Linked DNA regions of Homo sapiens. The protein of the gene in region 1 interacts with the protein of each later gene in a pairwise test. Each region holds a gene or a part of one and is shown in the gene's direction. Other genes may lie near its edges.

Region 1 (6,969 bases):
TGGTGGCGGGCGCCTGTAGTTCCAGCTACTCGGGAGGCTGAGGCAGGAGAATGGCGTGAACCCGGGAGGTGGAGCTTGCAGTGAGCCGAGATCGCACCACTGTACTCCAGCCTGGGCAACAGAGCGAGACAACTGGGCAACTCCGTCACACACACACACACACACACACACACACACACACACACACAAATTAAATAGGGTCTATGAGACGGGAAGGAACAGGGACTGTCCGTTACTAGGCGGGAAGGCGTATCTGGACTTGTCTGGGCGCGGCAAAAGCGGGAAGGTTGTTTACAGAACAGGTAGCTAGGAGACAAGGAAGTCGGTCTCAAGAAACAAAGAACAGCTTACTAAAGCTTTTAGAAAAGTAATTTATCATCTCTGACAGGTTCGTGTGGGAGGAGTAGCGGTCTTTGGGGTCCCCAGTGCCCACTTTTTTCTGTTAAAAATTAAACTGAGGTACGTTAACAATTAAAGAGTTTAGGGCCGGGCGCGGTGGCTCACGCCTGTAATCCCAGCACTTTGGGAGGCCGAGGCGGGCGGATCAGGAAGTCAGGAGTTCAAGACCAGCCTGGCCAACATGGTGAAACCCCATCTCTACTAAAAATACAAAAATTAGCTGGGCATGGTGGCGCGTGCCTGTAATCCCAGCTACTTGAGAGGCTGAGGCAGAAGAATTGCTTGAACCCAGGAGGCGGCGGTTGCAGTCAGCCAAGACGGCGTCACTCCAGCCTGGCAACAGAGCCAGACTCCATCTCAAAACAACAACAACGATTCACGAATGAGAAACACCCAGTCCTGGCTTGTGGTTTGTCAACGGAAAAAGCCAAGCTATGTAAAATAAAGAAGTTTATTAGGAGCCGAATAGGAGAGCCGTTGGCCGAGGGAAACACAACCCCAAGCAGCCTGGAGTAAGTGGTCCCGAGGCAGCTCAAGACAGTTTGGTTTTATTCATTTCAGAGAGACAGGAATTGCAGGGAAAATCATGAATCAGTGCCTGGAAGGTGTAAGTTCCATTGGCAGAAAGGGTGGGACCTGTGGAAGGGGGGTTAGAAGGCACAGGTAGTTGAGGGATTCTGTAGGTGGCAGCTGGTTGAGAGTGTTGAATCTTTGTCTAAAGTTTGGAGGAGGTAGGAAGGAATGCTGAAGGAAGGGGGTCTGTTATCTGCCACTTCATTCCATCCCAGCCAAAAAACAGACCTGTTTCTCGAGATTTTATGAATTCTAAGGCGTAACTTTACCTTTGCCTTGCGTGGCCTTAGGTCTTGTTTGTAATTTGGTATCTTGTTGCCACAAGGAGTCTGTTTTTCCAGTCAGATAATGTCTGTTTTTACATGAATGTGCGTCAGTTGCTGCATGTAAACTCCTAAAGGGAGAGGGTATAAGGAGACCTGTCTCACCTCCCATCCTGTCATACAGAGGCACTCAATTTTCAGGGTTTTTTGGGGGTTCCCTTGGCCAAGAGCCAGTCACTTCACTTAGCTGGGAAGGTACTTTGTTTTTGTTTTTGTTTGAGACAGAGTCTCCTGTAGCCCAGGGTGGTGTGCAGTGGCTCTATCTTGGCTCACTGCAACCTCCACCTTCCGGGTTCAAGCGATTCTCCTGCCTCAGCTTCCCGAGTGGCTGGGATTACAGGCATGTGCCACCACACCCGGCTAATTTTTGTATTTTTAGTAGAGATGGGGTTTCACCATGTTGGCCAGGCTGTTCCTGAACTCCTGACCTCAAGTGATCCACTGGCCTCGGCCTCCCAAAATGCTGGGATTACATGTGTGAGCCACCTCACCAGGCCAGAAGGTATGTTTTTATTTTTAGTTTACAGGTTGAAGGCTGGACTTTTATAAGGTACATGAGGAGACAAACCAGATAAATGCTTGATTGGTTGCAGAGATGCAGTCACCTTATTTGGACTTGTCAACCCGAAATAATCGAAAGTTTCAGATTTCAACTGGAAGAGTTTATTCAAGCAAAAAGATAGCAATGGCCCATTTGGGAAAAACACAGACTCCAGAGAAATGGACTCAGTACTCCAAAATTGGAAGTTAAGTTCTTGCTTATATTACTGGGAAAAGAGGTCCTGATCAGATCCCAAGAGAGTTCTTGGATCTCATACAGGAAGGAATTCAAGACGAGTCGGAAAGTACAGTGCAAAGAGAGTTTATTGAAAGCTACTCTGGGCCAGCATGATGGCTTAGGCCTGTAATCTAAGCACTTTGGGAGGCCGAGGTGGGAGGATCACTTGAGGTCAGGAGTTTGAGACCAGCCTGGGCAATATAGTGAAACCCCATCTCTTCCAAAAATAACAAAAATTAGCCGGGTGTGGTGGCCTGCACCTGTAGTCCCAGGTACTCGGGAGGCTGGATGGGACAATCACTTGAACCCGGGAGGCAGAGGTTGCAGCCCAGCTGAGGACACGCCACTGCACTCCAGCTTGGGTAACAGAGTGAGACCCCATCTCAAAAAACAAAAACAAAACAAACAAACAAGACAGAGTTCAAGACCAACGTGGCCAACACAGTGAGACCCTGTCTCTATTTAAAAAAAAAAAAGGAAAGAAAGAAAGAAAGCCTCTCTTACAGAGTAGGGCATCCTCCTAAAGCAAGTGGAGGAACGTACTGTCTAAGTTTTTCTTATGTAGGGATCTTGTCTATGTAAAAGACTAAACTGAGCTGTGCCTACGTGCATGTGGGCTGACAGCGTCACAAAATTTATTACTCTGTTGATTTAAAGAAAACTATCCTTTACATTTTAGTGCATACAAGTGCATTAAAACATAACTATAATTATCAGGCCAGGTGTGGTGGCTCACGCCTGTAATCCCAGCACTTTGGGAGGCCGAGGTGGGCGGATCACTTGAGATTAGGGGTTCGATACCAGCCTGATGAAACCCTGTCTGTACTAAAAATACAAAAAAAAATTAACTGGGCATGGTGGCATGTGCCTGTGATCCCAGCTACTCGGGAGGCTGAGACAAGAGAATTGCTTGAACTTGGGAGGTGGAGGTGCAGTGAGCCGTGATTGTGCCATTGCACTCCAGCCTGGGCAACAAGAGTGAAACTCTGTCTCAAAAAAAAACCAAAACGAAACAAACAAAAAAAACTATAATTATCTTGAAAGCACATATTATTATGGGTATTGGGACATCAGGACATTCTGTTGTTGTGGGAGTGTAAGGATACTTGCAGGCATCTTCAGGCTGTCTCCTTCATGGGAAACATTTTGTGATCATGGGTTGCGACTGGCAAGGAGTGTTTCTTGTTAGTCTCAAGATGGAGCTGAACTTAAATTGGTGTGTTACTCTGGCTCCCCTAGGCACCTGCTTCCCTAACACTTATATAGGCGAAAGGCAAATAAATATAACAGGATTACATTTTCCATAGAAGGCTGATGTATGAGGTACAACAATTTAATTATTATTATTATTATTATTATAGACAATATCTTGCTCTGTGGCCCAGGCTGGAGCAGTGGTGCGATCATGGCTTACTGCAACCTTGACCTCCCCGGCTCAAGCACCTCCGCCTCCCAAGTAGCTGAGACTATAGTCGCCCACCAGCACACCTGGCTAATTTTTTATTTTTTACAGAGGTGGGGTCCCAATACATTGCTCAGGCTGGTCTCTAGCTCCTGGCCTCAAACAGTCTTCCTTCTTTGGCTTCCAAAATAGCTGAGATTACAGGCGTGAGCCACTGCACCTGGCTAACAACCTAATTCATTATGGTTTTTTTTCCCCCAGAGCTTGTTTTCTTTAAAGCTCGTTTTTATTTCCTTTTCAATTTAAGAGTGAATTTAACATTCCAGCTGAAGACAGTGTGATAGCCATGAAGTCTTTGTGTGAGAAAGTTAAGAGGGAAGTTAGTCTACTACAGAGATCAGTAGTGAAGAGAGGCCCTGTGGGATGGCTCACACCTGTAACCCCAGCACTTTGGGAGGCCAAGGCAGGTGGATGGCTTGATCTCAGGAGTTCAAGACCAGCCTGGGCAACATAGTGAGACCCTCCCCCCCATCTCAATTATGAAAAATCATATTAAATTTTAAAAAAATAGTGATGAGGGAAAGGGTCTTTCCTGTTTTCCCTCAGTCATTTACAACATTTTACAAAACAGTATAGGTAAGAAAGAAGGCGAATCTGTAATCAGGGAAAGGAGGGTTCCAACTGGCTATGTAAAAGCTGTGTGTCAGGTGACTCAACTCCATGATCACATTGCTTAAAGATAATTTAGAGATTAAATTTTTTAATTACTTGTGTTTTGTTTGTTTGTTTTTTTGATTTTTTTTGAGACACAATCTTACTCTGTCACCCAGGCTGGAGCGCGGTGGCACCATCTGGGCCCACCGCAGCCTCTGCCTCCTGGGTTAAAGTAATTCTCCTGCCTCAGCCTCCCAAGTATCTGGGATTACAGGTGCGTACCACCACACTTGGCTAATTTTTATATTATTAGTAAAGGTGGGGGTTTCACCATGTTGGCCAGGCTGGCCTCGAACTCCTGGCCTCAAGTGATCCGTTCGCCTTGGCCTTCCAAAGTGTTGGGATTACAGGAGTGAGCCACCATGCCTGGCCTGACTTACTTGTTCACACAGCCTATATAGGTAGAAGATTTCTAGTCATGTAATCACAGGTTAATTGGTGGATTATGCCTGATTAAGCATAAATTTCATTTCCCTATAAATTAGTAATTTTCAAGTGTTTTATTTAAATTTGATTTTAGTGTCCTTAGGTAGGACCTTAGAATACTACACACAGTTTGGTCTCATTGCTTCTTATTTAAATTTTTTCACACTTTCCAGGGTGAGTGGTTTCCCACTACAATTTCCAAATATACGGGATGCAGGGCCTCAAATCCTCCACCCTCATACCACAGCCTGACTCTTCAAGGGCTTGCAGTGAAATCTGTGTCTGAACATTTCACATGAGAGGAAAGCAGAGAATAACCACTAGACATTTTCCCGAGAAAACCTTTCTGCCTCTCCTCCTTTTATCTTTCCTAGACACAGTCACCTATCAGGATGTCTTTGGGATGAGGTTCCTTTGTGGAAACTTTACAGGGTGATGTGTCTTCCATACACCCTCGTATCCTTTTTGTTTGTTTGTTTTTGAGACAGAGTCTCACTCTGTCGCCCAGGCTGGAGTGCAGTGGCGCGATCTCGGCTCACTGCAAGCTCCGCTTCCCGGGTTCATGCCATTCTCCTGCCTCAGCCTCCCGAGTAGCTGGGATTACAGGCACCTGCCACCACGCCCGGCTAATTTTTTTTGTATTTTTTGTAGAGACGGGGTTTCACCGTATTAGTCAGGATGTTCTCGATCTCTTGACCTTGTGATCCGCCCGCCTCGGCCTCCCAAAGTGCTGGGATTACAGGCGTAATCCGGCCACTGTGCCCGGCCCTACACCCTCCTGTCTTTTCCAGGTTTCGGGTTTTAGAACGGCCTGGGGATGACTCAAAATCCCCACGACTGCCCTGTCTCCTGGAGGGTCTAGTGGCTATCAGTGCCTAGGGGAGTGGAGCCTCCTGAGGGAGCAGCTGAATGAATAATAGTGGAGGAGATGCCTGGTATGCTCTTCATCTACATAACCAATACTTGGGGTGCTCAGCTTCTCTCTCCCAACTCCAGTTTCCATTCATTGGAGACACATGACCGTCAGCCAATTGGATGTTGCTATTGAGGAAAAGGAGAAATGATTCCTATCTTCTGGATTGTCTCATCTCTGAAGAGAGAACTCAGAGAACTCCCAAAAGACAAGGAAAGGCCACTTCAACGGGGTGGAGCAATAGCCTGCAAAGCAAAATATACATGGGGGTACACAGGGGACACAATGCCGTGTTGGTGGGAAATAGTCAATTAGCACTTCTCCTTTCCTCTATGTGAAATGTTCAGAGAATCACCACCAGACACTTTCCTGTCAAAATATGCATGCTTCTCCTCCATTCATCTGTTCTGGAAACAGATTTTATCAGATTGTCTTTTGGTTGAGGCTCCCCTTTGGAAACTTCAAAGGGTGTTATGTCTTCAGCGCACTCTCCTATGTTTTCTTGGTCCTGGGTGGCAGAATTGGGGTGACCTAATATGCCCACAGTTGCCATGTCTCTTGGAGGGTCTAGTGAGTATCAGCCGGAGTCACTCCTCCCAGGGGACAGACTGAGGTAGGAGAATGGGGACTCCCAAGAGAGCAGCTGAATGCCTTGTGATGGAAGGAGACTCCTAGTATACTCTGCATCTAGATAGCCAACCCCTCGAGATGCTCAGCATTTCTTTCCAAACCCCAGTTTCCTGAACTTGGAGACCTATGGCTGGTCAGCCAGTTGGATGGTGCTATTGAGAGAAAAGAGAAATGCTTCCTGTCCTCTGGATTGTGTCAACTGTGAAGGGAGACAAAACCCCAAAAAACAAAGACCACCCCAGCAGGGTGGACCAGTAGCCTGCAAATCAGAATATGAAAGGGGGCACACAGGGGGGTATAGTGCAGTGTTGGTGGAAAGTAGTCATTGAGCGCTTCGGTGAGCAGGATGGGGGTGGAGAGATGTCTCATGTGATAGGGTGACTGTGCTGACACATGAGTCAGACATCACTGTGTTCCAGCCAGCACGGCCCCTCTGTGGGCTTGTCCCTTGTAAAGAATTGTTCATAGATTGCAGCTTGAGTGTTTCAAATTAACTTTACATTGCATTTGTCACTAGAACCAAATCCAAGAATGATTGCGTAGGTCAGTGAGACACAGAAGAGGCAACTCAACAAAGCCCATGACATACAGTGCATGGCTCACAATCCCAGGAGATGAGGGCAGCACAGCTGCAGAGCAACACAGAGTGGGGGGAACATCCAGGATGCACATTCAACCAGTAGGTGGGGAGCAAGACAGACAGGGACCTGTGGGCCAAAGCGTTTCTTGGGGTCTAGGGAATTGACCAAGGAGGTGTCTCTTGGGGAGTTGTTTCTGGTGGATTTAGAGCAAGCAGGCACTAGTTCTGTGA
Region 2 (5,621 bases), on another chromosome or scaffold:
GCAGCTGTCTATAAGGCTATATTCCATTGCAAGCTTTTAGTGATTTGATAAAAGACAAAAGAAAATTCTAAGAACCAAATAACGGGATTTTAAAATTAATCTATTTCCCACAGGTGTTTCATGCAATCGGCTTGGTCAGCACTCATGTCTCCGTTGTAAGGTATACCAATGCGTTTTTTTCTTTTTAGATTTTGTTTTTAATCTCTATACCCCTCCACCAGTCCTTGGCTTATATGCAGCTATAATTAATTTATAAGGGACCTTAAAATTATGTAGTCTAATTCTTTTATTTTTGAGACTGTGGAATTGAAGTTGAGAAAGCTTACATGACTTTCCAATGGTCATCCAGTCACCTTTTAGTAGAGCTGTGGCTAGTGCACATTTCTCTGGAATCCTGGCTCTGTGTTTTTAGTGGAGAACATTCTGACCAAGATGATGAGAGTCTATTTTAATTAATGTCAAAATATACCTGCTTAGAAGAGTTTGGGTAAAGATTTCCAAATTTTTCTGTGTCCTTAGGCCTAGTCTCTAGCATTCGTTCGTCAAAGATTACTAAACAGATGCAGCCAATGCCCTTCCTCTCAGAAGCGTTTCTCTAGTTCTTATATTCCTAACCCTATGTCTTATTTATCTTCCAACTCTGTTCTAGTTTTACCAAATGGTGTTCAGGCATTATCTGTGTTTTCTTTGTCTGGAATACTTTTCCATCTTGGCTTACCCTATTGCCCTCCCATTCTTCATATGGCTATTAAGACTTCGTGTCTCTAAGATGCCTTTCCCAAATCCCATGTCTGCTTTAGTGCCCTTCCCTCTGCACTTCCCGTTCAGTGCTTAGTGTCTTGTAATTGCCTTTTCACTGTCTCCATCCCTAGTTAGACCATACACTGTGTGAGAGTAAATAGGCTGTTCACCATTATTTCATTTCATCAGGGACCTTATGAGTACTGAAATATTTGTGAACAGCTAAATGTACTTACATGTCATACTCAATATAGTCTGCCTTTTGTTAGATCATTGTTCAGAAGGGTCCTGACAAAAACCATTTCTGTTAAGAAAATGAAATGAGAAGTGTGACTGCTCCCAACAAAATTGTTAATCTCACTGCCTTAATAAAGCTATATCTTTAAAACACTGAATACTGTCTTTTTGTATATTTTTACATTTTTATTTATTTACTTTATTTTGCTTCTCCTATACAGGCTTGTTTCTGTGATGATCATACAAGGAGCAAAGTGTTTAAGCAAGAAAAAGGAAAACAGCCTCCTTGTCCTAAATGTGGGCATGAAACTCAGGAGACTAAGGACCTTAGCATGTCAAGTAAGGCCCTTAAGATACTAAGGAAGTGATTTTTGCTTTCATACTTAGACAAAGTTTATCTTTTTTTTTTTTGGTCTATTTTTCTTATTGCCTCTTCTTATTTGAAAAGATGAATGTGTTCTTTTAAGCAAGTGGAATTTTACAGCTTAGGAAAATATGTGGGTAAAGTTTTTCAGTTTTACTTAAATAGACCAATATTCATTTTGATATTTGGTATTTGCCTTAGTTAATGACAGCAAATACTGAAATTTAAGATAAAGAGTGATTTTTTTTTATTTTTGTTGAGTCTTCCTTGTTAAATAGTTGAGTAGCTATAATTCCTTAATATTAAAGTGGTGGTAATTTTAAGTACCTAGAAGTCAAATTCACTCTGAAGCTATCTTAGGTGTGTGATATTTGAGCACCTATGTTTATTTATGTAATATAGCACTACTATAGGAAATTATTTTATGGTTTTTATGTAACTTTTTTTGTGAAGGAATAAGCATGCTTATAGTAATGCAGCTCGCAATTTTGTTAAAGAGAAGTTTGACTCTTAACCAAACATATCAGAATGGAACCATAATTCTAAGTGACTGACTGCTTTGTTTAATCACAGATGTAGTTGCATGGTGAGGTGAGACTGATGATTTTGCTGATCTTCTGCACTGAACTTTGTGTCACTATTAAGGCAGAAGAAATGACAGGCTTTGTTTTTAAGGGCATCTGCATTGTAAAATAGCTGTCTTAAGAAAAATGTACTGATACGAAATCAGCTGTATTCTGTGATTTATGTGATTTGAAAATAAACTGTCAGTGGCCAAACGGAAGGTATTTTTGTTTTAAACATGCCTTAATACCTTTGGAGTGGTCTGTTGGTCTAATTTGTTTTCTAGATTTAATGAAATTACACTGTAATTTTTATTTTTTATGGTGTTGTATATAGACTCAGGTGAAAAAATTAGGAAAATGTGACCTATTTTTTCATTTGGGATTGAAGCAGCCAATGAAATCCATGAAATTTTATAGAGGAAGATGAGAATGTAGAGAACTGGAACTAACAAAATGCCTTGTACTTGTCTGTCTTCTATAGCACGCTCCCTGAAATTTGGCAGGCAGACTGGAGGTGAAGAGGGAGATGGAGCTTCTGGGTATGATGCTTATTGGAAGAACCTTTCATCTGATAAGTATGGTGATACCAGCTACCACGATGAGGAGGAGGATGAGTATGAAGCAGAGGATGATGAAGAGGAAGAAGATGAAGGCAGAAAGGATTCAGATACTGAGTCATCAGATTTGTTTACTAATTTGAATTTAGGAAGGACCTATGCTAGTGGCTATGCTCACTATGAGGAACAAGAGAACTAGGGGAGCTGCTCTGGTGGCCGTGTGTGAGAGGAGCAGGAGTGAGTGTGTGTGCTTGATGAATTGTGTGTGGTTGTTCAAAAGTACCTTAGCCACTTAGCCTTGTGCAGAAGACTAGTTACACTTAATGGGCCAAGCAATAGGGTGTAGCGTTTTTATAGAACTGATAATCAGGCTTATGGCATAAGAAAAATGAGTTTCAAATTTAAGATGTTTATTGATCGAAGCAATTGAAGTATCATGGATTGGATTGTTACTGATTTCAGTAAAGTATGTTTTGCCAATTAGATACATATATACAAGATAAAGGAATAGGATGGTAATATATTTGTTTGAAATTAAATTACTGTTTTTATTAAAAAATACTGCTTCATTGGGCTGATTTTGTAAAATGTAATGAGTAAAATGAATTACTGTATTTTTCCTTTTATGTCCACAGAATGAGAGTCATATGTTGTTATATTCTAAATTTTCATTAAATATTCATGTCACCTTGAGTTGTCATGATAAGTATGTTTTAGTATTTGACTTATTCTTCTCTTTCTTCACAATGTATGTCCTCAGTGGTACCTATTATTGATGCCTTAAATGTATTGATAAGGTGACTAGTTAGCCATTTTTCAGAGATACAGTATCAGAAATAGTATTATTACAGAAGCTTTACCCAGGACATTTTATTTCTCTTTGAATAAATCTATTATTTCACTTAAATACTTTTGACATTATATTTAATTTTTTGTTCTGTATTTTCAGTTTGTTTTGGAAAGCATTCTAATTTTTTTACAAACTGCTTCAGTTTTCACACATATGGAAATAGGTAATAGAGACTGTGTGGTATACACTTAAAGATAAGCAGCCCAGACCCCATCATTGATAGGTGGAGGACAGTCCTGTCACAAGTCCCAGTTGTTACAACTTAACACTGGCATTTAATAGGGATTGGGTAGTTGTACAAGGAGAGACAATATCTGATTGCCTCACATTTTAGATGTATGGAGAAAATTGTAGCTATGAGGATAACAGGGTTGAATGGCCATTGTTAAGCCATTTTTGTTCTATAGAAGCATACTTAACAGCCAAGGACAATAACAGGCAATGGAAAGCCAGGTGTCAAAGTTAGAGGGCCTCTGGTGGCATGTGAAAAAGCTTTTCACCTTTTGCAGTAGGACGGCTTGAAAAAACTGAGGAGCAAGCCCGAGACTTAATAGTTTCAAAGGATAAAATTTAAAGACAGTTGCCAGCCAAGGCAAGTCTATTATGCCAGCATCGGCAAACTGCTTGGGAAAACCTGTGACCCTGACAAATTAGATGGAGACATCTGAATCGATGGTGCTGGAGATTTTTACTCCCCAGACTCCTGCATTTCTGAGTTTGCAGTCATAGCCCACCCCTCCATGTTAAGGGCAAGCACTCCCCACTTCATTCTCAGGCTGGATGACAATGCAGAGGCTTCTTTCCTCGGGAAACATGCTCTCTTCAAGACTTGCCCTATCTCTAGGCCATTATAGTTAGTATCTCCAGGCCTAAAATTAGGGTTAAGTGACGATAAAGTTAAGCAAAACTCAGTTGAGGTGCTGGAACTGAAGTGGGAGGAAACAAGACTATGCCCCAAAAGAACTGCAAGAATTACGAAGAGTTGGAGGAATATGCTTGAGATTGGAATCAGTGCTTAAGAGGGTCAAAACATAAAATTAGGGAGGAGTTTGATGGCAGCCCTGACACTGGATCTTTGGATTGCTAAGAGTTAAATTAGAGGGTTTTAATAACCTGGCTAGGATCCTGTGAGATGGTGCGAACTCATTACCAGGATGGCTTCTTGAAATATGGAAAAAGTAATGGTCCTTTCTGAGCAAAGTCGAAACACTGGGATTACTGTGACATGGTGGAAGAATGGATTTAAATGGTTAAGGGAATTGGGTATGCTGGAATGGATTGGAAGATGAGATGATTATGTTCCATGGGAAGGCTCAGTGGACACACCATTTAACAGTGCCATAGAAATGTGCACTGATGATGGGGTATAAGCATCTCTAAAAACGTGTGGTAGCTCATGGTAGGCCATACAGACAGTAGGAAAAGAAAACAGAGTTCAGCTTGCTGATGGCAATGTATGACAAGATTCTGAAAAATAGTGGCTAAAGTGGCAGTGCCCAACTGCCAAAAGTCAGGGGGTTACAGTTAATGAGAAAGTGAGAGTGGTAGTCAAGGGGTCCTAACCTGCAAAGAGTTATGGAGAAGGCTAATGTAACACAGCACTTTAGGGACAAAACAAATGGGTAGCCAACAAGAATACTACTCAGTTTTTCCCATTAGATAAAATTAAGGATGGATTACATGGAAGCTAATGGTAGTCACCCCAATAAAAATAAAGCATCCGTTGCTCAGTTTCTGGACCTGAGTCACTTTTCAGACCTGGAGCCCAGACTGAAGAGGTGGCTGGGTCCCAGGAGGAAAGACAGGACACCATGGCATTTGTACAAGGTAATGATTCCTTTTGGTGTTAACTCAAAGGGACCCACAGCCATTTGCTCTGGTAATTCTAAGCTTAGGAAAGGGGAAATATAAGGGATTTCAAGGATTGTTGAACATAGAATCTGAATTGACATTGATATCCAGATACTCAGTGTCCCTGTTGTTTCTTTGTAGGGGGTGAGGGAGGAGTTGGGTTATACCAGGAGTCCTGGGCAAGTTTAAGCTTACAGTGGTTTCACAGCATGTGTGGAGGGCCAAGTGAAGCCTCTGACACTGCCTACCCTTGTATCTTCTCACTTCAGGCAGATAGTAATACACAATAGTATCACTTGGCAGGACGCAGTACCACCTTAGGGATCTAAAAGATGCAGAGATGATCGTCTCATCACATCTGTTAATTCACCATTTTGGCCCCTGCAGAAACTTTATGGATCCTAGAAGATGGCTACAGACAAGCTCAATGAAGTAATATCCTTGATTGCAACTTC
Region 3 (3,970 bases), on another chromosome or scaffold:
GTCTCTACATGTGACGTTTTCCTGTCCCCTCATTTAAAATAACAAGAGGCTGGGCGCAGTGGCTTACGCCTGTAATCCCAGCACTTTGGGAGGCCGAGGCGGGCGATCACGAGGTCAGGAGATGGAGACCATCCTGGCCAACACGGTGAAACCCCGCCTCTACTAAACTACAAAAAATTAGCCGGGTGTGGTGGCGGGCGCCTGTAGTCCCAGCTACTCGGGAGGCTGAGGCAGGAGAATTGCTTGAACCCGGAGGCGAAGGTTGCAGTGAGCTGAGATCTCGCCACTGCACTCCAGCCTGGTGACAGAGCCTGACTCCGTCTCAAAAAATAAGAAAAAAAAATAAAATAAAAATAATAGAGGCCGAAGCGGGAGGTTCACTTGAGCTCAGAAGTTCGAGATCAGCCTGGGCAACACAGTGAGACCTCGTTTCTATTTAAAAAATAAAATAAAACTAAATTTAAAAAAATGCACGCTCATAGTACAAACTTTAGAAATGGAACGAAAAACTAAAATTGAAGGTATTCCCCTCCAACCCAGAGATAACACCTATCGTTTATTAAGCCCTCACTATTGTTAAACTTAGTTTTAAAGGGCACGATCTCATTTCTTAAAGACTTCTATTCCGCAGAATTTCTTTCCAGGCTTTTTTCTTTTTCTTTTTTTGAGACGGAGTCTCGCTCTGTCGCCCAGGCCGGGGTGCAGTGGCGCGATCTCGGCTCACTGAAACCTCTGTCCAGTCTTTTCGAACCCAAGGCCCAACTGCGCTCTATCTCGACTTTCGGCTCCACTCGGATCCCGAAGTGGCGCACGAGATAAAATGTTGTCAGGCTGAGGTAATTCTCTGTTAGTCCCGGTAAAAATTCGTCAGTCTGGAAAGCTCTCGGTTTGGAATTAAATTCTGTCACTCCGGATGGAAATAAGTCCGCTTAAGGGGGGAAAATCCGTTTGTGGAGGACACGCTCCCGCACGTAACCCCCCGCGGAAAATGACCCCAAGTACCTTTGGCCAGGGATTGCCGCTGCCACGCCGGACTCCATAGCCACGGTCCTGAAACGCCCCGCCGGGCAGGCCGGACCAATGGACGCCGAGCTCGGCCGTGCGTCACGCGACGCTGGCCAATCGCGGAGGGCCACGACCGTAGAAAGGCCGGGCGCGGCGAGGCTGGGCGCTGGGCGGCTGCGGCGCGCGGTGCGCGGTGCGTAGTCTGGAGCTATGGTGGTGGTGGCAGCCGCGCCGAACCCGGCCGACGGGACCCCTAAAGTTCTGCTTCTGTCGGGGCAGCCCGCCTCCGCCGCCGGAGCCCCGGCCGGCCAGGCCCTGCCGCTCATGGTGCCAGCCCAGAGAGGGGCCAGCCCGGAGGCAGCGAGCGGGGGGCTGCCCCAGGCGCGCAAGCGACAGCGCCTCACGCACCTGAGCCCCGAGGAGAAGGCGCTGAGGAGGTGGGCGAGGGGCCGGGGTCTGGGGCCAGATCTGAAGCCGGGACTAGGGACAGGGGCAGGGGCAGGGGCTGGGAGCGGGGACCCAGCACTGGCCGCCCCGCAGGGCTCCGTCGCCTTTGGCCTGGCGGGTCGGTGCCAGCGTGGCGCGGGGCGGGGCAGGAAGCCCGGACTGACCGGATCCGCCACGCTGGGAACCTAGGGCGGCCCAGGGCTCTTTTCTGTACTTTTTAACTCTCTCGTTAGAGATGACCAGAGCTGGGGATGCGGGCACCTGTCTTCCAGGCCCTCTTGCTGTGTGGCCGCAGACTGGTGGTTCAGCCTCTTAACTCGGACATGAGGTCGAATAATCTGTTTTGGTTTACTGCTATTTCTGGAGAGGCGCGGAGCTGAAATAACAGAGCTGTTGAAAGGGCTGGGAATTCTGCGAGGCTCACTGGTCTAGCTCAGTATCTGCGTTCTTAAAATGGAACCTACTTCATGAGGTCTTTGGGGAGATTGAGACTTGGATATAATGTGCCTAGCACTTAGTCCTCCGTAAATGTTCACTCTTTTGTGATCATTGTGCCTTCTGTGATTTATGAAGTGTCTCTTCTGAGTTAATTCTTTTAAAAAAAAAAGTGTCTCCTCCAACAGACACGGACCCATCAGCAGGTCACTGCCTAGGATCTCAACACTAGAGATCAGGGAGTGGCATCAGCCTCTCCCTTTTCTAAATTGGACTGGGGGACGGAGGGTTGATGTCATAGCAAGATTGCAGCCTTCACTAGATTAATGAGGCCAGGTTGGATCCTGTTTAAGAGAACTGGAGACAGGAAGCAGCGGGGGAATAGATGGGGAAAGAGGAAAGTTCCTTATGATGCAAGATGAATAGTGTGTGTGTCCAGCCCCAGTGCTGTGACGGGGATGAGTCTGAGGTGGACGGATGATGCAATATAGGAGAGAATAAAGCAGGTCTTCGAGCTAGATTGACAGAAGACTGTATTTTTTATTTTGTTTTATTGAGGGGAGGAGCCTGAAGTGTATTTTATCATTAGTCTGTCTTATACTGTAAATAAAAATGAAAGCACCAGCTGGTAAAGTTTTCAAATAAAGACATAAATAAGGTTTGATATGACTCAGTGTGGTATGTTCCTTCTCTTCCTAGGAAACTGAAAAACAGAGTAGCAGCTCAGACTGCCAGAGATCGAAAGAAGGCTCGAATGAGTGAGCTGGAACAGCAAGTGGTAGATTTAGAAGAAGAGGTAAAACTACTTAAGGTCAAACTCTTTTATCCATTGTATACCCTTCCTTGGTGAATGTTCTGATATTTGCTTCCCATCCCAAGTTGTTTCAGCCCCTATTAGAATACAATTGAATATATGATTAAAAGTTAAACTAGGCTGGGCATGGTGGCTCATGCCTGTAATCCCAGCACTTTGGGAGCCTGAGTTGGGCAGATCACTTGAAGCCAGCAGTTTGAGACCAGCCTAGCCAACATGGTAAAATCCCGTCTCTACCCAAAAATATACCAAAAAAAAAAAAAAAAAAAAGGCCAAGCGTGAGTGCCTGTAGTCCCAGCTACTCGGGAGGTTGAGGTGGGAGGATTGTTTGAACCTGGGAGAGGGAGGTTGCAGTGAGCTGAGATCGCACCACTGCACTCCAGCCTGGGCAACAGAGTGAGACTCTGTCTCAAGAAAAAAAAAAAAAGTTTGCTGGGCACCGGGGCTCACACCTGTAATCCCAGCACTTTGGGAGGCCAAGGTGGGTAGATAACTTGAGATCAGGAGTTCGAGACCAGCCTGACCAACGTGGTGAAACCCCATCTCTATTAAAAATACAAAAATTAGCCGGGTGTCGTGGCAGGCACCTGTAATCCCAGCTGCTCCGGAGGCTGACGCAGGAGAATCACTTGAACCCAGGAGGCGGAGGTTGCAGTGAGCTGAGATCACGAGATCATGCCACTGCACTCCAGTCTGGGCGACAGAGCAAAAACCCTGTCTCAAAAAAAAAAAAAAAGTTAATCTAAGTTAGGACAGAGAGTTGGTGAAGTGGTGAAGCTTGTTGAGGGCAGAAGTGATTGACTTTGTGGCATTTGGTGCTAGATGTATCTCAAAGTAGATGGATTTAACAATGTTTATTGAGTTTGTAGTAAGAAATTAGCAAGGGCTAATAGGAAATAATTGCTTAAACTTTACATTCTTCCTGGCATGGCCAGAAATTCACTAAAGGTTCCTTTCCCCCTCTAGGGTCCACCTGTTAATCAATCTTAAATTGTTGCCAATTACACATCTTGAATACATAGAGATTATTTATATTGTTTTTTTAACCCCTTGGTCAATTTGCATATATTGAGCTTTTTAAAGTTTTAATCATTAGTTGGTTCTTCTAAGAATCATGAGTCAGGAGCAGGGATTTTTTTTAACTTATTTTGGATTTATAGTCACCACTACCACTTTTATTATTACCTGCCAGTTCAAGATAGTTATTTATTTTTATTTTATATTATTATTATTATTATTATCATCATCATTATTTTGAGATGGAGTCTC
Region 4 (4,176 bases), on another chromosome or scaffold:
AACTCACATCGGGAGGTGCAGCCCCAAAGGACCACAGCCCCTAGGCTGGACAACTCCTTCAGTTTGCCCAGCCCCATTTGTTGGGGCTCCTGTTCTTCCTGGGTTACATGCCCAAGAGAAGAACCAAATAGATGAAGAGGGAGGAATTTGTTCAAAGTAGTTATGTACTAATAAGTGAAAGAGGATTGGGTAAAAGAAGAGTCACTGTAGGGGTGGGAAGCAACAATTTAGGTGCAGAGCCCAAGACTCTTTAGTTGTGGTAGCTGTTTGAAATGGCTTAATGGCCAACAGACATAGTGGCCCTGAGAGGTGAGGTGTGATGCCCTCTACATATGCTCAGGGGATTGGCTCACAGTCCCAGAGCACCGGGCCACACCCTTGCACTCTGACATGCTGGAAGTCATGTTTCCTGGAGCTAGTACAGCATTGTCATGAGATTAGGAGCTTCACAGGTAACGCAGCCGCCATCCTGCCCTACTCCCACCCCACAGAGTCTGGAGGTAGTGCTGTACTACAAGGCCAGCCAGAGGAAATTAGATGGACTAGCAAAAGAGGAGGAAAAGAAAGAGGAGATGGAGGAGGAAAAAAAGCAAGTGAAAGAGGAAGCAAAGGAGCAGTGTGGGGATGAGCTAGTTGCTGAGCCAGCAGATCCTGAGGAAGCTAAATCCACAGAAGATCAGGAGGAAAATGAAGAGGACAAAGAGGAAGAGGAGAAGGAAGAAGACAGTGAAGAGGAGGAGGATGACGCCGACTCTTCCCTTGAAAGTCCCGAAGAAAATAACCCCCTCAGACTTTCCGAGAGCAAAAAGGTAACCAGAGCCAAAGCCTAGATCAAGTGGGAAGTGGGGTCTTGGGCTCAGATAACTCCGAGTTAATGGGTGGCCCTGCCAAGGATGGATATCTCCAGGAGTGGAGGCCTCGCGCTCTAAGGCACAACCCTTCGGGGAGGTGGAGATGCAGAAGTGGGAGATGAGAGCAGTCTGTCTGCACGAAATCATGGGCTCAGCCCCGTTTGCTGTGGAACCACCTCACAATGACCACCTTTTCTGGGAACCAGCGTGGGGTCTCTGGAGTCCTTTCATTTACGTAGTAGCCTTTGTTACCTTCCTTATGTCGGGAGTGTTCCCTCATCCCTCTTTTGGCACTGCAGGAAGGACATTGACAGTGTGAAGTCTACTTCAGGCCATTTCTGTCGGTCTGGGCAAGTCACTCAGTCCAGTTTTCCTATGGTGCCCTGTTAGGTTTAACCTTTGTTGTTGCTGTTAGGGGTGTGTCAGGGGATAATCTCTTCTTTGTAGGCTCATGTTGCCCCCTGGATTCTGTATATCACAGGACATGAAGGTGGGGCCTGGAAGTGATCAAGAGTGATAGTGAAAATATTTCACATCTGTACAGTAGGAGCATAGACTAGTCCAAGGAGACCATCCCTAGCCTTAACCCTTCAGTTGCTAGATCATTGAGAGGTTGGGGTGGAGGTATCCTGGGATATATATGCCAGAATGCCAGAGGTAACTTACCAACAATATAGAAGTACTTCCATATTTTAATAACTGGTACGTCTCTGCAGGTATGTAGCAACTGAATTCTTGCCCTGGACTTAACTCAGGGCTCAGAGTCCCTACAGAGTTAGAGTATTTCCTGTGTAAGTCCTCAGCTTACATTACAGGTTCTTTCTGTTCTAAACAGAGGTAAAGAAAAAAAGCCTCTTGTGGTGGGATTATCCAGTCAACTCTGAGGATATCTGGAATTTCCAGCAATTTGGTCTTCAGCACTGGCTAAGGATCCAGTGTGCAGTGCTCTGCTTACCTTGTGCCAGGGGACCATTACCTAAGATGTGGAAAGTCGGAACCACTGCAGCCCCTCCCACTATCATGTTTCCTTGAGCTCATCATATTCCACCACGTGCTGGTTCAGAGCCTCACAGATGTCTTTACCTTCGGTGCCACATTTCTAAAGCTAGACCTGATTTTTCTACTTCAAATATATTCTATGTTTCTATATATGGAGAGATCCCTTTGCCCCGTGGGTCCTGCGTCTTTTGCAGGCAGCTCTAGGGCATGTGTATTACCACCTTGCAAAATCGGTTTCTCTCTGGAAGATTGTTGCAGTGAAAGAACTAGCCCTTCTCCATTGTCAGTTTGTTTCGGTGCATGTTGTCTTACAATGATATCATTAGATTCCTAGGGGATCTAAGGGACCAGAGCCCAAAATACTAAGAAACTTAATGGAAAGCAGGCTAGAACAAAGGGACAGGTGACCTGGTAGAAGACTGGCTCTTCCTAGAGTGACCTAGGAAAAGTCACAAGAAAGGTCTAGATGCAGATACCTCCTGCTTGACAGGATATGAGAGGTATGTGACGAGACAGAAAGAAAACTGGACTCACCGCCTGACTTGGACCTAGCTGCTGCTTAACCCATTCAATTTTGCAATTCCTGCAGACTGCCGGTGGAAAGAACCAAGGCCCAGGCAGCAGAAAAGACATGCAACTGCTCTAGCTTACCTGTTTTTTAACCTCTTGATTCCTTTCTCTTTTCCCTTTGTTTTCTCATCTTCATTATCTGTTGGATCCATGCGTTTATGTCTCACATCTCCTGGTCTCTCCTCGTGCTTCTTTCTCATTTTGGTGTGTTGCAGTCATCCCCTACCCCCAATCCCCCCATCTTCTCCTTGCCTCTTGTAGGCCTGGTGGTCATCTCGGCTTTGCTCTGGTGCTGGTGGGCTGAGACGTCGTCCTAATGCAGGTACTGGTATTGCTTCCTCTCCTTCTGAGGGATAGAGGGAGGGTGCAGGTTGCCCTGGCCTCTCCTCTTTCCCTTTTCTCCCAGCTGCTTGCTTCTTGCTTGTGCCATTTTATAATAGGTGATGCTCAGGTCTGAGTTTTAGTTCTGACTTTTCCTTGGGCTACTGCAAAGCCTCTGACATCTCTGAGCATGTCTTCGTAATGCATAGGAGGTTGGAATGCTTGCCAGAGACATGGTTTGTTTCAATCCTTGGCTGGGAAAAACTTGGATAAGCCCAGCTTGGTTGCTGCTGTCAAAGCTGCCTCACTACTTCTTTATCCCCGCTCATCCTCTGTGTGATGGCTAGCCTGACCACTTCTGATGAGCTGATATTTGCAAGGCTGGCCTGGACTCTCTTTGTCTTGGTTTAACTCCGGAGCCAAGTTCTCACTACTGTTGCTACCCAAGATGGCAAAATAAGGAATCCCTCTTCTGTTGGGAGAGAGAGGAGCTCTGAAGAGCTCTGATCCTCATGATCCTCCCAGGGGCATTGGTAGGAGGGCAACCTAAGCTGGTCCATCAAGCTTGGTGAAATGGAACCGAACCCCTACTGTATTCTGCTCTTTCTACTGAACAGTTCTCTGCTTCTGGACTTCCAGTCTCCGGAAAAGTCAGAACAGAATGCCGGGAAATTTTATTAGTTATCTATTTATCTATTTTGTGGGCCAGATTCCATGGTAATTGGCTTCCCCAGCTAGGTTTTCTGGAGAGAATGAGGTATTAGTGAAAAGTTTCTACTAGCCAGAGATGTGTGTTCTCAGGAAATCAAGACTGATATATTCTGGCCACTTTCCTGTCAGCTCCCACACATGTAATGTACACTGTCAACAGGATACCAAATTCAGGAGGCAGAATGTGGTCTTACGGCCTAAGGTAGAAGCCTGGGGTTCCACCTGCCTTCTGGAACCCATAAGGTATTCTCTCTAGTCCTGCATTGGCTCCTCTCTCATGCTTTCCCTGCCTCCCCCTCCACTCCCCTCTCTTCTCACATTCCTGTGAACGGAATGTAGCTTAATGCACAGGGTGGCAACTGGAGGATTTGTTGGTGGCACTTCTCTCCATTTCCTTTTCTGTCCTTCCTCCTGCTCCCTCCCCAGCTTTCCTGTTACTCATCTTCAAGCCTCCACTTTTCTTCTTGACTTTAGGTATTCCCTTTACTCCCTGGTCCACAACTGCTTTAGTGACGGGGCCCCTCTCTATGACTGTTTCTCCCCTGTCACCCCCCAGAAGTCTTAAGGCACTACGGGTGAAACCCAAAGAGTTCAGCCACAGCCTTCCACTACCTCAGACCCAGCCCGGCCCAATCAGAGGGAGAGGAAGAACTGCTGGTGAAGGGTTCTCCTGGTGGGGCCTGTTATCCCCAGAGCTCCAGGAGGCCCCAACATGCACCTGTGC
Region 5 (6,969 bases), on another chromosome or scaffold:
GAAAACAGAGATTTTGGAGTCATCAGCACATTTGGGATGGTGGAAGCCACAGCCAAGGAGGGGATGTAGTACACGAAGACCTCAGGGTAAATGTGCAGAGCCCTTATTAGGTATTCAGTAAAGACTTGAGGAGTAAAAGAATGAACTAGAAAATGACAATGTACTGATTATTAATTTATATTTGAGTAAAAAAGACTGTTATTTCCATCAAAATCTGCCTCTAGAATTTTCCAGCAAGAAAGTAAGTGATGATAGTTATTAAAAGCCCTAGCAACAGTTTATATCCTTGAGGTAAAACCATCCTGTTTCAACAGATACCATATTCTCATTGAATTCCACATTAGCTTATGATAAACACAAGATGTTTTTCATAATCTAGATGCAGGTTTTATGCATTTTTTTTTAGCAAAACATACAGGGAACTGCCAAGATGGGAGAGTAATCTTTCCTAAATCACTCCAAATGTCACCATGACTATAAGCATACTTTCCTAAATTGGGGGATTTTTGCTTAAGAAAATATAAGTTCATTCAAATGCTTCACTCACATTATATTAAGGTTTCATCATTTATCCTATAAACAAAATTCTGCTTTTATATACATTAATCACTTTGTCATTCATAGGATCAAACCAAAATGACAACTGCTCACTTTTACTGTCAATACTGCACAGCATCACTTCTTGGGAAGAAATATGTACTAAAGGATGACAGTCCATACTGTGTTACATGTTATGATCGTGTATTTTCTAACTATTGCGAGGAATGCAAAAAACCAATTGAATCTGATTCTAAGGTAAGTCTCACCTCAATTTACAGAATTACTGCCTATGAACAGCAAACAAGTGGGTTGGAGTGCCTCTTTTCATTTAGTGTTGACTTTCAACACTATTTCTCTGCTACTGGATATATAAGGATCTTAAAAGTTACCAGCAGTCAAGCTCCAGCCACTACACTTAGCACTATGAAATACAACATATGCTTAATCCTCACATGATCTTCTAAGGTAGCTGAGAATGCTAAAGATTAAAGGGGTTAAGCTATTTGTCCAAAGTTACACAGCTAGAATTTTCCTGCTGTTTCCAAGCTCTCAGTAACCTTCTGGGTGTGTTTGTTATTTCTGGAATGACAAGGGTATAAATAAATGCATAAAGAATTGAAGTTGAAAGGATTCAAAATCTGTTTTCTGATGTAAAATCAGCTTCATTTCTTACTAAACCCTATTGATACCTCTCACACCTACCACCCCTTCCTCCGACATGCTTATTCTTTCTTTCTTTCTTTCTTTCTTCTTTTCTTCCTTCCATCCTCCGATTATTTTCCTCTCTCTTTCTCTCTCTCTCTCTCTCTCTCTCTGTCTCTTTCTTCCCTCTTTCTGCCTTTGTTTTACTTAGGTGATGTTATTTTTTGTCTGTTTAGTTACATCTCAAAGAGTAATAGAACATTGCACCCTAAAATTTTTAAAAATCATTCCATGAAAAACCTCTATTATAGTTTATAAAAAGAATATAGGCAAATTTTGAAGACACAGCAGAGAATGTATTTGTTTTTTCCCAGCTGCCTTAAGTGACCCACCAAGAAAGCCCTGGGCTCTAGCTCTTAATTACCCCAGAGAGTCTCCTCTCTATGGGTAACAGTTTCAGTAACAACTTTCCCTCACGCTACTAGCACAACCTACTGACATGAGAGTCCCAGGAGTGTTCAGTTTTGTTTCATAAAATGGCCTGTATTGTCACAACCACATTTAATTAACTTTTATTTACTGTCTCAAAGGATCTTTGTTACAAAGACCGGCACTGGCATGAAGGATGCTTCAAGTGCACCAAATGCAATCACTCTTTGGTGGAAAAGCCTTTTGCTGCCAAGGATGAGCGCCTGCTGTGCACGGAGTGCTATTCTAACGAGTGCTCCTCCAAGTGCTTCCACTGCAAGAGGACCATCATGCCTGGTAGGGTCTCAAGGGGGCTCCTGTCTCTAACTGAAGCTGTGATGCTTTTCATTAAGTCCCAGCACATGAGGAGTGCAGCAGCTCCCAAAACCCTGGTTTTGAGAAAGATATCTTTCTTACTCTCTCAATCTTCTTCCGTGTACTTTAGAAATAAAAAGATTATTCATTCATTATCCTTGAACAGGTAAATTACAGTGTTCTGTGTATTTTCATATAGTCTAATTCATAGAAACATTTCAAACCAGAATCTTACCCATAAAATAAAGACAAAATGTATACCAATAACACTACATTAAACACAGTGCCCTAGGCACAATCAATGGCATCAGAAAGAGTGATTCATCATAGGCGATTGGGGCCAACTGCCATTTTGTAGCTTGACACAAACTGTTTTGAGGATCGGTTATTGTTATTCTCTCTTAGGGAAGACAGGGTTCATGTATATCATTCCACTTTTGGCAAGGACTAATTCTTTATATTTTGATCTTCTCAATCTCTATGGTCAGCAGCATAAGAACATAATTCATTCTCTGCCACTCTTGCTCTCTCATTTTCTTATTATGGATTCAGAGAATTTCTAGAAGGCCATAACTGCACAGTATAGTCTCAGTAGTTGTGCTCTGGGCATTTTTAATACCCTTGTAATGATTATTATGGCCCAATTTATCCAAACCATGTGAAACCATTAGGAGTCTCCATTAAAAGTACTTTTACATCTCCAGATTATAGGTTATGCAGAGCTTGAAAAAGTTTTCAGTCTAAGAGTGATTCTCCATCATCATGGCTAAACTTTATTAACCATTTTTTTTTCTCCAGATGAATGGGTTTTTTTGAACCTGAAAAAATACTATTTTTCTAAAAGGACAATTCATTTATCATCTTAACTTAAAACGTTTTTAAGTAATTTGATCTGTATTTGCTTAAAAAATAAAATTATGCTTGACTTATACTAACATGGCCTTACTTTTGGAGTACAGGTTCCCGCAAAATGGAATTTAAGGGAAACTACTGGCATGAAACCTGTTTTGTGTGTGAGAATTGCCGACAACCTATAGGGACAAAGCCTTTGATCTCCAAAGAGAGTGGCAATTATTGTGTGCCATGTTTTGAGAAGGAGTTTGCTCACTACTGCAACTTTTGTAAGAAGGTAATTTTCTAAAGAGGGTGAAGCTTGTGGAAACTCAGACTATTTCTTTTTAGCTGTATCATATATTTAGAATGAACTGATACTATTATGTTATATCTGTAATCAACACACCCATGGTAGTTTGGACTTTCAACATGTCCAAACCACTAGTTGTCACGATGAGCATGACCATCTTTTTTTTTTTTATTAACCATAAAATTCCAGCCACAACAAGAATTTAATATTCCAAACAGCTCAAGTGATTTGGTATTCCAGTTCATTTCACTGTTTTTTGTTGTTGTTGTTGTTTTATTTTTTTGGGATGGAATCTCGCTCTGTCACCCAGGCTGGAGTGCAGTGGTACAATCTCGGCTCACTGCAACCTCTGCCTTCCAGGTTCAAGAGATTCTCATGTCTCAGCCTTCCAAGTAGCTGGGATTACAGGTGCGTGCCACTGTGTCCAGCTAATTTTTGTATTTTTAGTAGAGACAGGGTTTCACCATGTTGGCTAGTCTGGTCTCGAACTCCTGACCTCAGGTGATCCACCTGCCTTGGCCTTCCAAAGTACTGGGATTACAGGCATGAGCCACCACACTCGGCCCATTCACTGCTTTTATACAAGATCTCACGTATTCTGGGAGAAAGCACAGGTCTCTCTTTGAATACAGATGTTTCTTAAAAAATAATGTTTGATCTATTCAGTATTAACTGTTTCAGAGAAATATGGATTTGCCTCACAAAGTGACTAAGGGAACCAAGTTAAACAGGATGTTTAACTTCTCACATTCTTTCTCAGCAATGCAAATGTCTTCTTGACTTGAAGCTTTTGTATTTCCTATGAGTAGGGCAATCGGCTCAAGAGAGTGCCAAGATCATGGGGGAAGTTCAGTAGACAAAAGACAGAAAGAAGACTAAGAGCAGCAAGTTCCTTCACTCCAGTTCCAGGATCATGTAGGGCCTTCTGACTTGGCTTCCCACTCAAAAAAAACATTTTCTAAGAGAAAAAAAAAGTAATATTTTTGAAGTAAACTTCATCCAATTCTTTTTTTATCCTCTAAGCTTTTATGTGAAAAAGTAGCTCTAACACCTTGATGAAGCCTGTCTGCATTCCATAAAATATATATGGAGGTTCTCAAAGAAATCCTTGACCTGCGAGGCATCATAAGTTTAAAATGACACCATAAATTGTCATGAGAAAGCTGAATCATGAAAATACATTGGATTAGTATAGTGGTTTCAAAGTATTTTTTATCTGTGGGTTACTTTGGCAGAACTCTTAAGCCCATTTGTATATCTGGACAGCTGGAAGTCACACTACCACTTTCTATGCACACATATGTGAACACACATGCACATACACACACACACACACACACGCAGTTAACTGTTTAACATACATAACCAATACCACTACTGCATTTAAAGAGGCAGCAATACACTATGCTAAGTTATCATTATTAAATTACACTATGTTGATGGCTGAGAATTACAATTGATCACATGACATAAAATAATCTTATGACTGAGACCTTCATTACTCTACCAAAACACTGGCTTAGAAGGTGACTTTACAAGCAGCAATCAAGCCATATGACATATGAAGCTCCAAAGAATTACCAGGGTCAATGACGGCATTTAAAAACATGCTGGAGCTGGGCATGGTGGCTCACGTCTGTAATCCCAACACTTTGGAAAGCCAAGGTGGGAAGATTGCCTGAGGCCAGGAGTTCAAGACCAGCCTGGGCAACATAGTGACACCCTGTCTGTATAAAAAAAAAAAAAAGTTTAAAAATTAGCCAAGTATGGTGACACGTGCCTGTAGTCCCAGCTACTTGGGTGGCTGAGGCAGGAGGATCACTTGGGCCCAGAAATTCAAGGCTGCAGTGAGCTATGATTGAGCCACTGTACTCCAGCCTGGGTGACAATGAGATCCTATCTCTAAAAAATATACAAAACTTAAAAACTAAAGAAAATAAAATCTTGCTGGAAATAAAATGAATAGGTTTATCTCACTGTTTTGAGAGACAACTGAGTTGGCCAATTTTAGGCTGCATTTCTTAAAGACAGACTAAAACAGTAATGATATTTGTGAGAATTATCCTAAAATCATTTATCAGACACAATAATGAAGACTCTTTCAATGCTATAACAATTCAAGAGTGAAACTTCTTTAGTACATCCATGCTGAGCACTGTCTGGGCCAAGTGCTGATGTTTCCCAGGTTATTGGAGCCTGTAACTATATTTAGGATATGATTTGAAGTCATCAAAAATTTACAAAATATTTATATTGGGTAGTAGACAGATTATGACATGCCAGATTATTTTTTATTTAGTTTTTAAAACCACAAGTCCTTTTCTAAAAAGCTAGATTTGTTTTTGATCAAGATGATCCAATCTAAACAATTTTTTTCAACCCAAACCAAAGACCAAATATTTTCTTAAAAAAAGGAAAAACTACTTGACAACCAGGCTGTTAGAACTTTTAAGCTTTAAAATCCATAGATTTTATTTTGTTAAACTAAGATTTATTTTCTGCCAGAAAGCAAATGATTTTAAACTACAAGTGCTTCAAATTCAAACTCCTCAAGGTTCAAAAGGAGTTAAACGTCTTCTTCGATTTTTCATCTGTCACATAATGAGTGCAAAATCATTATTGCCCCCACTTTTTCACAGAACAAACTTGTTCTAAATCCTGAGATCAATCAGTGGTGAAAACCAAGCTTAGATATTAGACTTTATCTTACCTTCCTACCTCTTCAAAAGGAATATAATCACAAGCAAACTATTTTTGATGTTCCAGAATTTCTTCTCTCTAATTAAACAGTCTTTGGTGTATATATCAAGTTTTATTTTGCTGTGAATACATTTTTCAAGTTTCAGATCTTTTAAGCATTGCCTGCTAATCATCAGACCAAACAAATCAAAGGAATCATGAATTCTGCTGTGTCTGCTGTAAGGCATTGGAAGTCAGTAGGAGGTATTTTAAATTGCTTTACTTCCATCACAACATTATGCTTCCCATTTACTTATTCAGAATAGTATGCTTTTTTCCCTCTAGGAAAATATCTTTCATATCAAATATCTTTAATTTCTAAGATATTTGTTATAAGATTAAAAATACCTTTAGAATAATTTTTTCACAAGTCTATGTAACAGACAAATAACATTTTTGAGTTCGTAAACAACGAGGCGGCTTAAAATAGGCTCTAAGTTTTTACTACCTAGTTAATTTGATACAAAGGTTATAGGAACCACCTCAGATACCCCATTGCTTCAGTCATTATAAAACACTTACAAAAACACATTCCAGTATCTACAGCAATTCTAAGAGCTCATTAGCTGTGAATTCAAAAGGTGATGTGGCTTAAAAATAGTTACATGAGAAAAAATGCCCAAGATTTATCCATCTGATTCTAACTAAAGATTTCTCAGCCTTTTAAAAAGTAGAATTCATGGATTAAATTGGTTTAGAAAGAAAATATTATCTTATGCAGAACTAATTACATCTCAGGCAAAACACTGCACATCACACCTTAAGGCTCAATGTACAACCAGGGCTTATTCCATTGAGTTCTAATTCCCACAGCACCCCACTGCTAGATACAATATTGGAATTGCTTTCCAACTATTTTTTCCTTTGGCATTTATTCATTCATTCAACAAGGATTTTCAACTGCTTATCTGTGTAAGGTAACCTTGACTCAGTATGGCACTGATGGTGATGCACACAGGCTGTGGAATCAGACCATGCAGGTTTGAATCCTAGCTCACTATGGCCATGGCAAGTAACTTAATGACTGTAACCCTCACTAGTTGCTCATCTGAAAAGAGGGAAAGATAATAGTCTGTAGTATGTAGAGGTGTTGAGAATATTCAGAAGAGATCATCCTTAGC

The links.
Region 2: the proteins of ZNF440 (region 1) and ZNF330 interact in binary tests that used the Homo sapiens proteins (3 or more experiments, as listed by UniProt).
Region 3: the proteins of ZNF440 (region 1) and XBP1 interact in a two-hybrid assay, tested with the Homo sapiens proteins (one large-scale study listed by BioGRID and IntAct).
Region 4: the proteins of ZNF440 (region 1) and CCDC136 interact in a two-hybrid assay, tested with the Homo sapiens proteins (one large-scale study listed by BioGRID).
Region 5: the proteins of ZNF440 (region 1) and FHL5 interact in binary tests that used the Homo sapiens proteins (3 or more experiments, as listed by UniProt).

Annotation. Positions count from the first base shown.
Region 1 is NC_000019.10:11,815,139-11,822,107, forward strand, and holds part of ZNF440 (zinc finger protein 440), read left to right. Parts: intron 1-6,969. UniProt on the Homo sapiens protein: May be involved in transcriptional regulation.
Region 2 is NC_000004.12:141,231,326-141,236,946, forward strand, and holds the end of ZNF330 (zinc finger protein 330), read left to right. Parts: intron 1-113; coding exon 114-160; intron 161-1,199; coding exon 1,200-1,317; intron 1,318-2,389; coding exon 2,390-2,664; 3' UTR 2,665-3,372; downstream 3,373-5,621.
Region 3 is NC_000022.11:28,797,770-28,801,739, reverse strand, and holds the start of XBP1 (X-box-binding protein 1), read left to right. Parts: upstream 1-1,170; 5' UTR 1,171-1,215; coding exon 1,216-1,442; intron 1,443-1,662; exon of another isoform or gene 1,663-1,703; coding exon of another isoform or gene 1,704-1,780; intron 1,781-2,586; coding exon 2,587-2,683; intron 2,684-3,970. UniProt on the Homo sapiens protein: Functions as a transcription factor during endoplasmic reticulum (ER) stress by regulating the unfolded protein response (UPR).
Region 4 is NC_000007.14:128,815,123-128,819,298, forward strand, and holds part of CCDC136 (coiled-coil domain-containing protein 136), read left to right. Parts: intron 1-491; coding exon 492-809; intron 810-2,635; coding exon 2,636-2,737; 3' UTR 2,738-2,742; intron 2,743-4,008; coding exon of another isoform or gene 4,009-4,176. UniProt on the Homo sapiens protein: May play a role in acrosome formation in spermatogenesis and in fertilization.
Region 5 is NC_000006.12:96,602,978-96,609,946, forward strand, and holds part of FHL5 (four and a half LIM domains protein 5), read left to right. Parts: intron 1-624; 5' UTR 625-636; coding exon 637-795; intron 796-1,772; coding exon 1,773-1,947; intron 1,948-2,924; coding exon 2,925-3,094; intron 3,095-6,969. UniProt on the Homo sapiens protein: May be involved in the regulation of spermatogenesis. Stimulates CREM transcriptional activity in a phosphorylation-independent manner.